3 separate regions of the Homo sapiens genome follow, and regions 1 and 3 are each linked to region 2. The links come from fine-mapping of genetic effects on gene expression. A gene starts in region 2. Each other region holds a variant in brackets. All regions are shown on one strand. Distances are between the middles of the regions. Region 1 overlaps RPH3A (rabphilin 3A). Region 2 holds the start of RPH3A (rabphilin 3A). Region 3 holds the start of OAS1 (2'-5'-oligoadenylate synthetase 1).

Region 1 (4,241 bases), 98 kb after region 2:
AAGACATGAACATAAATATTCCATAGCAGCGTTATTCATAATAACTCAAAACTAGAAACAACCTGTATCAACAGCAGAATTATTATGGTACATTTACACAGTGGAATACTATGCAGCAATAAAAAGGATAAGTTATACTGTGCATGGATGCATCTCACAGACATAATCTTGAGCAAGAGAAGCCAACATAAAAGAGTCTATATTATATGATTCCATTTATATGAAGGTCAAAAACCAGACAAATGACTTCATGTGGCCAGAGGCAAAAGAGTGGCTATCTTTGAGACAGGCAGTGACTAGAAAGGATCCTGAGGATCTTTCAGTCTCTGGAATGTTTTATATCTTGACCTGGGTGGGAATTACATGGGTATATACAAATGCAAGGGTTCATCAAGCTATAAACTAAATTTATGTGCTTTACTGCATGTCAGTTATACTGCAATAAAGAAGAAGTTAAAGGTACTTGGTCCAGTGATAAATAAACAGGAAATCATATTATTTCCACATACATTACACATTCCTTACCAGTATCAGCTGCAACTCTTGGCACACAGTGGTGTCTTAATATTTGTTCCTGTTTCTCTCTCTACCCCCTTGTGTTGGTGGCAGGATCTCCGTCTGTGATGAGGACAAATTTGGCCACAATGAATTTATTGGTGAGACCAGATTCTCCCTCAAGAAACTGAAGCCCAACCAGAGGAAGAATTTCAACATCTGCCTGGAGCGAGTGATTCCTGTGAGTGACTTTACCCTGAGGATCTGATGGGAGGAGGGGAGATTGGGGGAGCTGCCTTCCTCTGGGTCTGAATTGGGGGAAATAGATCCACGGGGTATTGGGTAGCAGAGGCACTGCAGCAGGTCTGCAGAGGAGAGTCAAGATTCCAGCTCACAACCTCAGGCTGCATTCTCTCTCTGCCTTTCACAAACCCTGTGTCAGCATCACTTCGAACATGAGTTCTTCTTGGCCAAACTGGATGGACAGCATGGCAGGGGCAGCATGGGCTTCCTGGGTTCAGAGCCAGCTCTGCCACTTGCTGCTCCATGGCCTTGGCCAAGGGGCTGAACCACTCCGAGCCTCGGTGTTCTTGTCTGTAATGTGGGTGTTATAACAGTACCTGCCTCTTGGGAGGGTTGTGTTTTAAAAAATAACATAATCAAAATAGAACTTAATGCATAGTAAGCACTCATAAATTAACAGTTGTTAGTGTAGGAAATATTGCTGCCTTACCCACCTGTCAGTCATGAAGTCAGAAAGCACCATGTAGATAAACAGCAGACAGCATAGCCTAGAGTTTAAGAGTATGGGCTCTGCAGCCAGACTCTCGGGTGTGAATCCTGGCTCTGCCACTTAGGGTATAACCTGAGGCAAATTATTTAATTTCTCTGGGCCTCAGATGTCTCATCTGTAAAATGGGATACTGTAGTACTAACCTCATAGGATCTTTTAAGGATTGAATGTGATAATACATATGAAGTATTAGAACTGTCATTGTTGTTGTCAGATGTGATTCTTGCTCTTTGAGAAAATAGCAAGGATCAAAGTGAGGTTCTGCAATGGGGTTGCACCTCAGAATTAACCGGGGGATTCTAAAACCAGAGCTTTACAAGCTAAGATTTGTGGGGGTCTCCCCTGGAGATTCTGTTTTAGTGGGGTAGGGTAGGACTCAACAATCTATATTTTTAGAGATAATTCAGGCTGCCTTGCCTTACGTATGGGCCAACTTGGGCCCAGAAAGGGTAGCAAGTCTCCAAGGTCTCTGGGCACTGGCCAGAGTCCAGCTCTCCTACAACACCAGCACCCCTGGTCTCTCTGGGCAGCCTGCCTGCTCTCCACAGGGAAGCTATGGGGTGCAGGAGCATCTTCCCACCAGATGGCCAGCCTGAGGATGGAATGTCTGCATGCCATGCCATAGTTTTATAGTTCAGGCAAAGGAACAAGACCAAACAAGGAAAATTTCAAGGAAGGATTTCCACTGAATTCCAGGCTCAGAATAAATCCTTAAAGACATCCCTAGGAATGAGGCC[C/T]TTCTTCTGGGCTTTTGCCTGGTGACAGCTGGGTCTTCAGGCTTCTCTTCCTTCTCCAACTCCGTGAGTCCAGTTGGCCAGGACAATGGCCAGGCCCTTGCCTGTGTCATCAGCCTTTGGGTCTTCCCATCTTGCTATGGTGAATGCAGCCAGCCCCAGAGACATGGAGGTGCAGGACACCCAGAGGGCTGCAGCAGCCGCAGAACACTACTGATCATCTTCTTTTGCTCTTTGCCATTAAACCTTAACCCTTGCACCACGAACTTCCCCCATTATGTCCCACTGAGGGCCCCTCCCCTCTGGACCTCAGGTTTCCTCCTCTCCAAAGTGGGGAGGTTGGATTTAACCAATGGTTTTCTAACTCTGTTTCCCAGAGCCTAGAGTTCAGCAAAAGGGCCCCAGGGGCCATGAAGGCAAAAGCACCTGGTGGGTCAGACCCCAAGACCCCTGAGCCACTTCAACCAGAGAAAATGAAATCTTGTCTGTTTGTGTGTGGAATGCTCTGACACTTATTGGCTGTGTGACCTTGGGTAAGGGGCTTAACTACTCGGACCCTCAGCATCCTCATTTGTAAAATTGGAATTGTAACAGAACCTATATCATAGGTTGTTACACATTCACATAGCTTGCCATATGGCTAAGTTTTATAAATTTTAGCTAAAAGGGAGAATGCAGGAGAGCCACAGTAGCTTAAGAACCCACTTTCATGGCTCTGGATGGTAATGGAAGTATGAGGGGTTTCTGGTCCTTCTTGCGCAGGAAGATGAGCTCCATAGACAATGTTATCTTTTATTTGTTTTCTTCTTTTAAGATGAAACGTGCTGGGACCACCGGGTCAGCCCGAGGCATGGCCCTTTATGAGGAAGAGGTGAGCACTGAGCAGGAATTGAAGCCACAGTCAGGGTCTGTACTGGGCTAGGCTAGCATCTTCCTCTTCTCTCCCTCCCTGGCCCCTTCCTCATCCATTCTCTTCCAACCACCCCCCTGTTGATTTGCCTTGAGAACAACCCTTTGCCCACAAGTGATGTCCTCTCCACACCTAAGCCTCTGAGGAGGGGGAAGCCCCTTTCTCTCATACCCAGGATGCCCACCAGGTTTTTGGCCTTGTTGTCAGAAGCTTTGTTGACAATTCTACTGACTAGGGCAATGGCACACTCCTTTCTTGGAGTAGATGCATTCTTTGAGCTGTGTGCATGGCAGAAACTGAACTAAGCCTTCATGCTGTCTGCCTGGGTCCCTCATATGACCCCAAGGACTGCCCTTTAAGAATACTGGTTGTGTTAAGGGAGTCTGAGATCAGAGGCAAGAATCTGTCTGGGGCCAGGGTCAAGGCTCAGTCCTGGGTTAGAGCCAAAGCCAATCAGTGACCCGGAGCAAGTTTAGTCTGTGCTCACAGTCAGAGTCTGTTTATGTCTAAGTCAAAGGGAAGCCATTGGTCCCCATGTGCCTGAGACTGGTCCTCAACTTTCACCTTTGGCTCCTCTTTGGAGGCTAAGCCATCTGCTGTCCCTGGTACTGGCTCCCTAGAGCTGGCCAAGCTTCGCCTGCCCTTCATAGGTTCTTCCCTAATGCTCGCCATTCACATTTCCTGGCCCCCTCCCCTCCAAGGCCCACACTGCCTTTTCCCCCAATGCAGCAGGTGGAGCGTGTTGGTGACATCGAGGAGCGTGGCAAGATCCTGGTCTCCCTCATGTACAGCACACAGCAGGGAGGCCTCATTGTGGGCATCATACGCTGCGTGCACCTGGCTGCCATGGACGCTAATGGCTACTCAGACCCATTCGTCAAGCTGTAAGTCAATGCCTTGGGGCTACAGGTGGGCCCTGAAGGAGTCCTGGAGCCTTGGAAAAGGAGAACCAGACAGTTTCACCAAGATCGTTGTACACTGAGACCCAGAGAGGGCAAGGAACCTGCCCAAGGTCACAGTGAAACAAATGCCTACAACTGGCAAGAATGTGGGTCTGGAGTCTCAGGCAGTCAAACTGGTGTGTCACTTGCCCACAGGCAAAGCTCTGTGGCTCTGTCCTCTTGAGGGCCTGCTGATGGCTCTGCAACTAAGCTAATTAGTTATAGTAGCCCCATTTGTACTCCCAGGAGTTGGCCGCACACCCCTCGGACCGCTCAGACCTCCACCACCAAAGAGGCCATCTGGCATTTTCCAGATTCATTCTGGAAATGCTCAGAAAAAAAACATGCCTTCAGTCTGGGGTCTGTTC
Region 2 (4,241 bases):
TGCTGTGTCTGTAACTTACTGTGAAGCCTTGAGCAAGGAATTTTATTTCTTGAGTCTAAGTTTTCTCATTTGCAAGATGGGAATAATACTAGTGTCCTGAAAGGGTCATGGTGAGGACTTCAGAAGATGATACATGTAAAGTTCCTAGCAGAAGAGCTGGCACATAGTAGGTTTTCAATAGCAGCCATCATTGCCACCACCACCACCACCACCATAATCATCACCATCAACATCATCAGCATAATCATTGTCAATCAACACCATCACTATAATCATCACTATGATTACCATCATGATGACAATTACTACCACCACCACCACCACCACCACTGAGGCAGGTGGTTCATTTGAGGCGAGGAGTTCAAGACCAGCTGGGGCAATATAGTGAGACCCATCTCTGCAAAAAAAAAAAAAAAAAAAAAATTAGCAGGGTATATTCGTGTGCACCTTGAGTCCTAGCTACTGGACAGGCTGGGGTGGGAGGATCACTTAAGCCCAGGAGTTCAAGGTTTCAGTGAGCTATGATTGCACCACTGCGCTCCAGCTTGGGTGACAGAGTGAGACACTGTCTTTTTCTTTTTTTTTTTGAGATGGAGTTTCACTCTCGTTGCCCAGGTTGGAGTGTAATGGTGCAACCTCGGCTCACTGCAGCCTCTGCCTTCCAGGTTCATGTGATTCTCCTGCCTCCACCTCCCGAGTAGCTGGGATTACAGGTGCACACCACCATGCCCAGCTATTTTTTTGTATTTTTAGTAGAGATGGGGTTTCACCATGTTGGCCAGGCTGATCTCGAACTCCTGACCTTAGGTAATCCACCTGCCTCGGCCTCCCAAAGTGCTGGGATTACAGGCATGAGCCACCGCGCCTGGCAGAGACACTGTCTTTAAAAAATTGTTTTTTAAATGAGCTCTAAATGTTCTCATTTTAACTCCTGGGTCTCATGGGGAGAAGTAAGTGACAAATGTAGTAGTTAACCCTGGGCCATCTGGATGGGAAGCTTTAGATATGAGTCTCCAATAGAGAGAGTTCTCCTTCACTTTGCAGAGAAGTTCTAAGCAGATCTTGGTCTGTTTGAGATTTCCTGGCCTTTTTCCAATTTGAGCCCTTTCCCAAAGTTAGGAGGAATAGGACTCTTGAGATATGGAGCACTGGGAGCCATGGGAATCCATTCATCTTTATATATTTCCCCTTTTGATACTTTTATTTCATTGTCCATATAGTGAATTCACTTCAGAAAGCCAGTCTGGATCTTTCGGGGAAGGCTCTTTGGCCAAGGCTCAATGGTCTGATTTAGACCTAAAATTTCCCTTCATTCTACTCAAACCACCTGCTGAAGGGTGAGGTTGGCACATGCCATCCTAGCTGGGCTGTCAATTCCTTTATCACTCTGTCCAAACATTTGTGTTTTAGGACAGGTTATGGACCATGAAATCATGGCAGTTCACAGCTTGGGTATTCTTATTGTTGCATTTTAACCTCTTGCTTCCTATCTTTAGGAAAAATAAGGTCATTATGTTATCATTTTCACAGATGGGACTTGGAAACATTAAATGACTTTTCCAGAGTTGTAAGGGGGCTGGATCTGACTTCCAGAAAACCATCAAGTGCTTATTCAACTAAGCCACCCTGCCCCTTAGAAATTTCCATTTCTTAAGCCTCAGCTTTTCTGCTCTGAATTCTGAGAAACTCCAGGTACAGGTCAAAAATCTGCAGCAATGGGGGTGAGGACAGGTCATCTGGGCGAAACTTTGAGGGGCAAAACCACTTAGGGAGCCCCCCACACCGGTGCCAAGCTCTTGTCTGAGCAGAGAGGAGCAATGCAGGACTGGGGGCGTGTGGGAGACAGGGGCTGTGAAGTTATAGTTCCTTTGCTCTGAGAGTGAGCGACAGTATTAGAAAAAGTGTGTGGTAGGTAAGCTGTCACTGACTAGACTGTGTGATGTCGAGAAGTCCCGTCCCCCACCCCTCCGGACTCCCCCCTTCTCTGCTTTAACCATCCAATTACTTAACTTCTCTGCCTAGGGGTTCGCTTCCCACCCATCCCCTCCTCCAAGGCATCTTAGCGCTGTCCGTGGTGCTGACCGCCAATCCCCTGGTTGCCGTTTCGACCAGCTGGGATCTCTGGTGCGCCCAACCTCCCCTCCCGGCCTCCCACCTTTCTTTCTCCAGGCACCGCACACATAAATCACGGGTGGGAGGCAGGCTTGGTTCCCGCTTGGTTCCCCCTGCACTGGGAAGCTGCCGCCCCGCTTCCCTTGCTCACACAGGGCTTTGCAGTAGTGGTGGCAGCCGCGGCAGAAACTGGCTCTGGGGAAGCAATTGATTCGTCTACTGCCAGCAGCCCGGAGTTGCCTACGCGGACTGGAAAGGAAGGGAGAAGGGAGAGAGAGAGAGAGAGAGAGAGAGAGAGAGAGAGAGACTCACAGAGCTAAAACCTTCATCCATGTGGAGGACAGTCTGAGGGAGCCACTGTCCCTTGTCCACTGACTCACTGGCTGGTCCGAGTTTTCTCCGCTTCTGGCAGTGGTATTTCTTTTTGTCTTGGTCCTGCATGATTTAGGGGTAGTTGATGTGTCTGTGTGTCTACGTGTGTGCACTGGTGCTTTGATTTTATTTTGGGAAGAGTAGGAGAGTCAAATGAACAATTTTCTTTCAGGCACCTCCGCTGAGCTTTTAAACCAAGTCATTGGGACTTAGCGTCTTTCTACCCGGCAGGGAAGGGAGGAGTTGGCAAGAATTTGGCTCACCCATTCCCCCTGCAAGCCTCCAGCGTCGCGGTAAGTGATATTCTCCCGGGTTGTGCAGATGGGCTAGGGGTGTTGGAATCCCAATTGTGATGTGTGTTCATGAGCTGGTGGGGTAAAGGGTAGTTGGGAGGAGAAGGGTATCGAGGAACGACTATGCTTATTTGCCTACATCCTGCAGTGTTTTATCACCTAAGCGGCATCCCAAAGCCAAATGAGATTTTGGCTTAGTGCCCAGGGAGGGGGTAAAATGTGCTCATGTTGTAGGCAATGCGATCAAGATTGTGGCTTCTGCCCAATTTGCCCTCTCCTTTGCAGCAGAAGCTGGTGAAAGTAGCCGGCAGTTCTCTGAGAGAGTTAACCCTTCGTGGGGCTGGCTAGTCTAGCATGGAGGGACTCTGGGTACTCTGACTTAGCAAGTGAGTGCTTATCCCTGGAGGGGAGGGGGTCACCTGAGACTGGAAGGGTAACTTTTGCCTGGGCACACTGGGTAAGATTTGCACAGGACAGAGCTTAGATTGTACCCTCTTCTAGGAACAGCTGAGTAATTTAATTGTGGTGATTTTTGCGAGGTTGGCTGTTCACGCTTTCCTGAGATGGAAGACCTGGGAGCCAGGAAAGGGCCACACTATGCCTGGGATGAGTGGTCAGGCTGGCCAGAAGGGAGCAGCCACTGCCTGCAGAGGAGATGATGTTTTATTTTCACAGGTGGCGTAACCTGTAAGTGATTGTATGGGGGAGCGTCCTGGCACTAGCTTGGGAGATTCTATCCTTGAGTTCATCTCAGAAGGAAGGAGGGGAACAAAGCTTGTTCAAATTCTGGGGAAAGATTCCAGGCTTCAGCTTCAGTTTTGTTCCAGGGTAGACCGTCCCCCTGCACTAGTTTCTTTTTCCAAGATCCTGATGGGGAAAGGCTGCACCAACCTGTTAGTGAGTGGGAAGTGGAAGTACCTTGAAATTGAATCCAAAAGCTCACATTTAATTTTGAAATGCTTTTGATGCTAATCTGCTACCCATCAAAAGGGGATTTCACTTTGCTTTCTGCTTTGATTACATCTACTTTTCTGGAAATGAATGCCCTTGTTTTTAGCATTTTTGCTATTATCTCAGGGGCCACCTCAGTGTTCTGCACCCCCAAGGATTTCCTTTTTAGATTCTTGCTCTTGGAGGTGGGAGGAATAAAACAACAGTCAGAGATTGGCAAGCCTGAAATATAAGCAGGGTTCACTCATTCTTTTTTTCTCTAGCCCCATAGCTAAGAAGAGATGCTGAAATCCCACAGCATGTGCCTGCTCAGGCAGGACATATGAGGCAGAAGAGGAGGGTTGTCTGGTGGTTAGTGTCAAAGATTTGGTTCTCAAAATCCCTAACTTCTCTTCCTAGCTTCTCTTGCTGGGTGACCTTGAGGAGGAAGTTGCCTTAGATTCCTCACTGGGAAGACTTGAGTGTGAATAATGAATGTGTGGAAATTTTGTTCAAAAAAAGAACCACATATCT
Region 3 (4,241 bases), 120 kb after region 2:
TGGGTCATTGCCAGGGAATGAGTAAACTGTTCATGGTGCTGGTGCTCATGCCAGCCAGTCTTCAATCTGGCCCTGAGTCAAGCCCCACCTCCTATCTCAAAACTATTCTGCATGGTGCTGTAATGGTGGATACATGACATGTTATGTTTGGCAAAATCCATAGAACTGTAGGACACAAGAGTGAACCTTAATGTAAACCTTAATGTAAATGGACTTTTGTTAATTATGATGTATTAATATCAATTCATCAATTGTAACAAATGTATCACAGTACTGTTAATAATAGAGGAACTTATTGGCAGGAGAGAGAGCTTATGGAACTCTCTGCACATTCAGCTCAATATTTCTGTAAGCCTAAAACTGCTGTGAGAAATAAAATCCAACCTGGGCAACATAGCAAGACCTTGTCTCTACAAAAAATAAAAAATGAGCTGGGTGCAGTAACGCATGCCTGTAGTCCCAGGTATTCAGGAGGCTGGGGCAGGAGGATCCCTTGAACCCAGGAAGTTGAGGTTGCACGAGTCATGATCATGCCCCTGCACTCCAGCCTGGATAACAAAGCAAGATCCTGTCTCCAAAAAATAATAAAATAAAATAAAAATCTACTAATTGAAAGGGAAAAAAGCATAGTATAATACCATTCTTAACAAAAAGAAAAGAGACCTGTGTTTGTGTGTGTGTTAACATTTGAAAAAAATCTGGAAAGCTCTATATCAAAACGTTTATAGAGGCAATTTTGTAGTGTTAGAATCATAGATGATCTTTCCACTTCCTGGTTTTTCTGACTTTTTTTCTTTTTGCAGTGGGCATGTATTGCTGGAAAATACCACAGACAACTGTGAAAGGATTTCATCAACAACAAAAAAAAGATAAAGAAGGAAACACAAAATCTGTTAAATAAGATTTATGTTGGCTGGAGGTTAAAATGCATTTCCAGAGCAGAGTTCAGAGAAAGGCTGGGCTGCTTGTTGCTGGCTAAAGGACAAAGGGTAAGTTTCAGGAAGCAGAAGAGTGAGCAGATGAAATTCAGCACTGGGATCAGGGGAGTGTCTGATTTGCAAAAGGAAAGTGCAAAGACAGCTCCTCCCTTCTGAGGAAACGAAACCAACAGCAGTCCAAGCTCAGTCAGCAGAAGAGATAAAAGCAAACAGGTCTGGGAGGCAGTTCTGTTGCCACTCTCTCTCCTGTCAATGATGGATCTCAGAAATACCCCAGCCAAATCTCTGGACAAGTTCATTGAAGACTATCTCTTGCCAGACACGTGTTTCCGCATGCAAATCAACCATGCCATTGACATCATCTGTGGGTTCCTGAAGGAAAGGTGCTTCCGAGGTAGCTCCTACCCTGTGTGTGTGTCCAAGGTGGTAAAGGTGAGTCCAGGCCTGCCTGGCCAGGGGAGGGGTGGCTGAATGTGCAAGAGTTGAGATTGAGAATGAGAGAGAGAGAGAGAGAGAAGCAAAAACCTAGAACCCAGGGTGCAAATGTGAGTACAGAGAGCTGAGATCTTCTGGGATGGTGGTTTCTTATTTATCCACACAGCATGTTAAAATAGATTCTGGGGTGAAATCCTACATCCCTATTATTAACAAGTGACCCTCCCC[C/G]CTACTTCCCGCTGAAGTTTATGAACCACTGTCCTGGGCGATGCCCATTTCAGAAATAGGGAACTGAATCCCAGCTCTGGTAAACAGTTTGCTAATTCGTGGCCAGGCTAGGGGCTCACCATTTCTGCAGTGAAGAATCATATGTTTTGAAAGCAAATAGCACCTGCTGGCTGCAAGACCTTGAGCAAGTCACTTAACTACTCTGTGTTCCAATTTCCTCAGCCATAATCCCCAATACTGTTGCAGTCTTGCCAGTGCACCTTAATGTAGCAGCTTCTCACTGAATTAGTACCCAAGGTTCTTTGTCCTGCATCCAAGAAAATTAAGGAACATGGACACAAACGTGAGCTTGGAGCAAAAGTTCAGTAAGCAAAAGAAGAAAGCTGTCTCCACTGTGGAGAGGGAAGTCTGAGTGGATTGCCAGATTGCAGCTGAATGCAAAAAACTTTTATAAGAAACCACTCTCCTCCCTGTAACTGTTTGAGAAACTTTTTATCAGTAAAGCTGTGCAACTTCCCTTACCTTATGCAGCTGTGGGTATATCTCTAGGCAAGCATAAAGCGCTGCTTCTCTTGTATGTATAACTGTGGATTTGTTTTAGGTAAGTCCCACTCCCTGCGCCAGTTTCAGGCAGGCCGCTCCTCCAGGGCCCAGCCTTGACCATTTACCTAACTGATTTTTCCTCTACTTTCCCTCAATACCTCATAGGGCCGTGTAGATTAAGTAAAATAGTAAGTGTGAACCACCCAGCATAAGCTAGTCCTGGGCATCGTAAAGGACAATGGGAAAAGAACACAGATCCTGGAAGAAGGCCCCCAGGTTTGAATTGTATTTGCCACCTACTAGCTGGGTGATGGGGCTGATATATTATCTCACTGAGCATCCATTTTCCCATCTGTAAAATGGGAACTAATGATAATGGCATCCAAATCATAGCATCATTGTGAGCATTATAGGAGTTTAAGACATGCAATGCCTTCAGAACAGTGGCTAGTGCTCCATAATGTTAGTGATTGCTCCTGTCATTTTATTTAGGGAGGTTTGCCTCACTAAGCATCAATTATTATTTTTGTCGTCTTTTTCAGGGTGGCTCCTCAGGCAAGGGCACCACCCTCAGAGGCCGATCTGACGCTGACCTGGTTGTCTTCCTCAGTCCTCTCACCACTTTTCAGGATCAGTTAAATCGCCGGGGAGAGTTCATCCAGGAAATTAGGAGACAGCTGGAAGCCTGTCAAAGAGAGAGAGCATTTTCCGTGAAGTTTGAGGTCCAGGCTCCACGCTGGGGCAACCCCCGTGCGCTCAGCTTCGTACTGAGTTCGCTCCAGCTCGGGGAGGGGGTGGAGTTCGATGTGCTGCCTGCCTTTGATGCCCTGGGTGAGAGCTCCCAGCTTCTTTTTCTCCCTCTTCCCATTTCTGAGCAGAAATCTCCCACAGTTTGAGAGCTTTTTGCCCCAACAGGGCATCTCTCTAAAGCAGGGTGGGAGGAGATCTTAGGATCTGTCCCGGGGCAAGAATGAATACGGTCATGATCTATCACAGGAGAGACATTAAACAGCAAATTGGCATAATGTGGGGACAAAGACATTTCTTACAGAACATCTGCAAGGCTTACTGGTTCTGTTTAAGGCAAAATGTGTGAATTTTATCTTTCTAAAATCAGGCAGCAAAGATGTGGCTTAAAGTTCATGTTACTCTCATCTTTGTCCCAACATGAGATCTCATCAAACGTATGCAGCACGTTGGGAGATAGATATTTATAATTTGCAGGAACATTTGGACAGGAAGTGTAACCTCTCAGAGGCTCCCTTGCCACATCAGGAGAATTGGTAAAACCACACTACCTGTATCATATCATTATTTTAAGTGATAAATGATCATCTACATTCAGCTCTGATGAGTAATAGGTGTTCAAAAATAGGAACTTCCAGCCAAGTGTGGTGGCTCATGCTTGTAATTCCAACACTTTTGGAGGCTGAGGCAGGAGGGTCGCTTGAGCCCAGGAGTTCAAGACCAGCCTGGGCAGCAAAGTGAAACCTCATCTCTACTAAAAATTTTAAAACATTAGCCAAGTGTGGTGGTACATGCCTGTGGTCGCAGTTATTCAGGACGCTGAGACTGAACGATCACATGAGGCCAGCCAAGGATTCGAGGTGTCAGTGAGCCACGAATGTACCACTGCACTCCATCCTAGGCACAGAGCAAGAGCAAGACCCTGTCTCAATCAATCAGTCAATCAGTCAAAACTATGAATTTCCCAGCTGTATATGAAGGCACCTCAAAACACCACAGTGAACTCACAGAGGGACACGGAATAGTTTAGATTTTAATTTTTTGAGGGAAATGCGATGACATCTGTCACACACCGCACAAACGGCTACTATTAAACTGAACTTACTGATTAGTGGCTACTAATTAATAGTTGGTCATTAAGCAGTAATTAGTGATTAATTATCAAGTAATTAGGACTTAATTAAAGGAACTGTCACAGTTTCCTTTAGTCCTAGGGCAGCCATGAAAAAAAAAATGCTGACTCTCCAAAGACACCAGGGTATGAGAAAGTTTTGGATTCTCTCCTTTGTGCCATCTCCTGTGTTGGGGGCTGAAGTACAATGGTTGTAAAAGACAAGAGGGAGAAGGCTG

Evidence for each region. PIP is the estimated chance that this variant, and not a neighbour inherited with it, causes the effect.
Region 1: its variant is fine-mapped to the expression of RPH3A in whole blood (INTERVAL, PIP above 0.99).
Region 3: its variant is fine-mapped to the expression of RPH3A in whole blood (TOPMed, PIP 0.97).

The regions. Positions count from the first base shown.
Region 1 is chr12:112,887,188-112,891,428 of GRCh38, forward strand. RPH3A (rabphilin 3A) reads left to right here. Exons shown (of 22, transcript NM_001143854.2): 17 at 610-736; 18 at 2,837-2,893; 19 at 3,662-3,816. Among named protein-coding and RNA genes, the nearest start is that of OAS1, 18 kb to the right of the region's middle. The variant C/T (reference allele first, on the strand shown) is at 2,026.
Region 2 is chr12:112,789,487-112,793,727 of GRCh38, forward strand. It overlaps RPH3A (rabphilin 3A), which reads left to right and starts at 2,262. Exons shown (of 22, transcript NM_001143854.2): 1 at 2,262-2,526; 2 at 2,657-2,777. RefSeq lists an enhancer at 2,354-2,895.
Region 3 is chr12:112,905,850-112,910,090 of GRCh38, forward strand. It overlaps OAS1 (2'-5'-oligoadenylate synthetase 1), which reads left to right and starts at 1,113. Exons shown (of 6, transcript NM_016816.4): 1 at 1,113-1,370; 2 at 2,687-2,975. The coding sequence starts at 1,191. RefSeq lists an enhancer at 954-1,393. The variant C/G (reference allele first, on the strand shown) is at 1,602.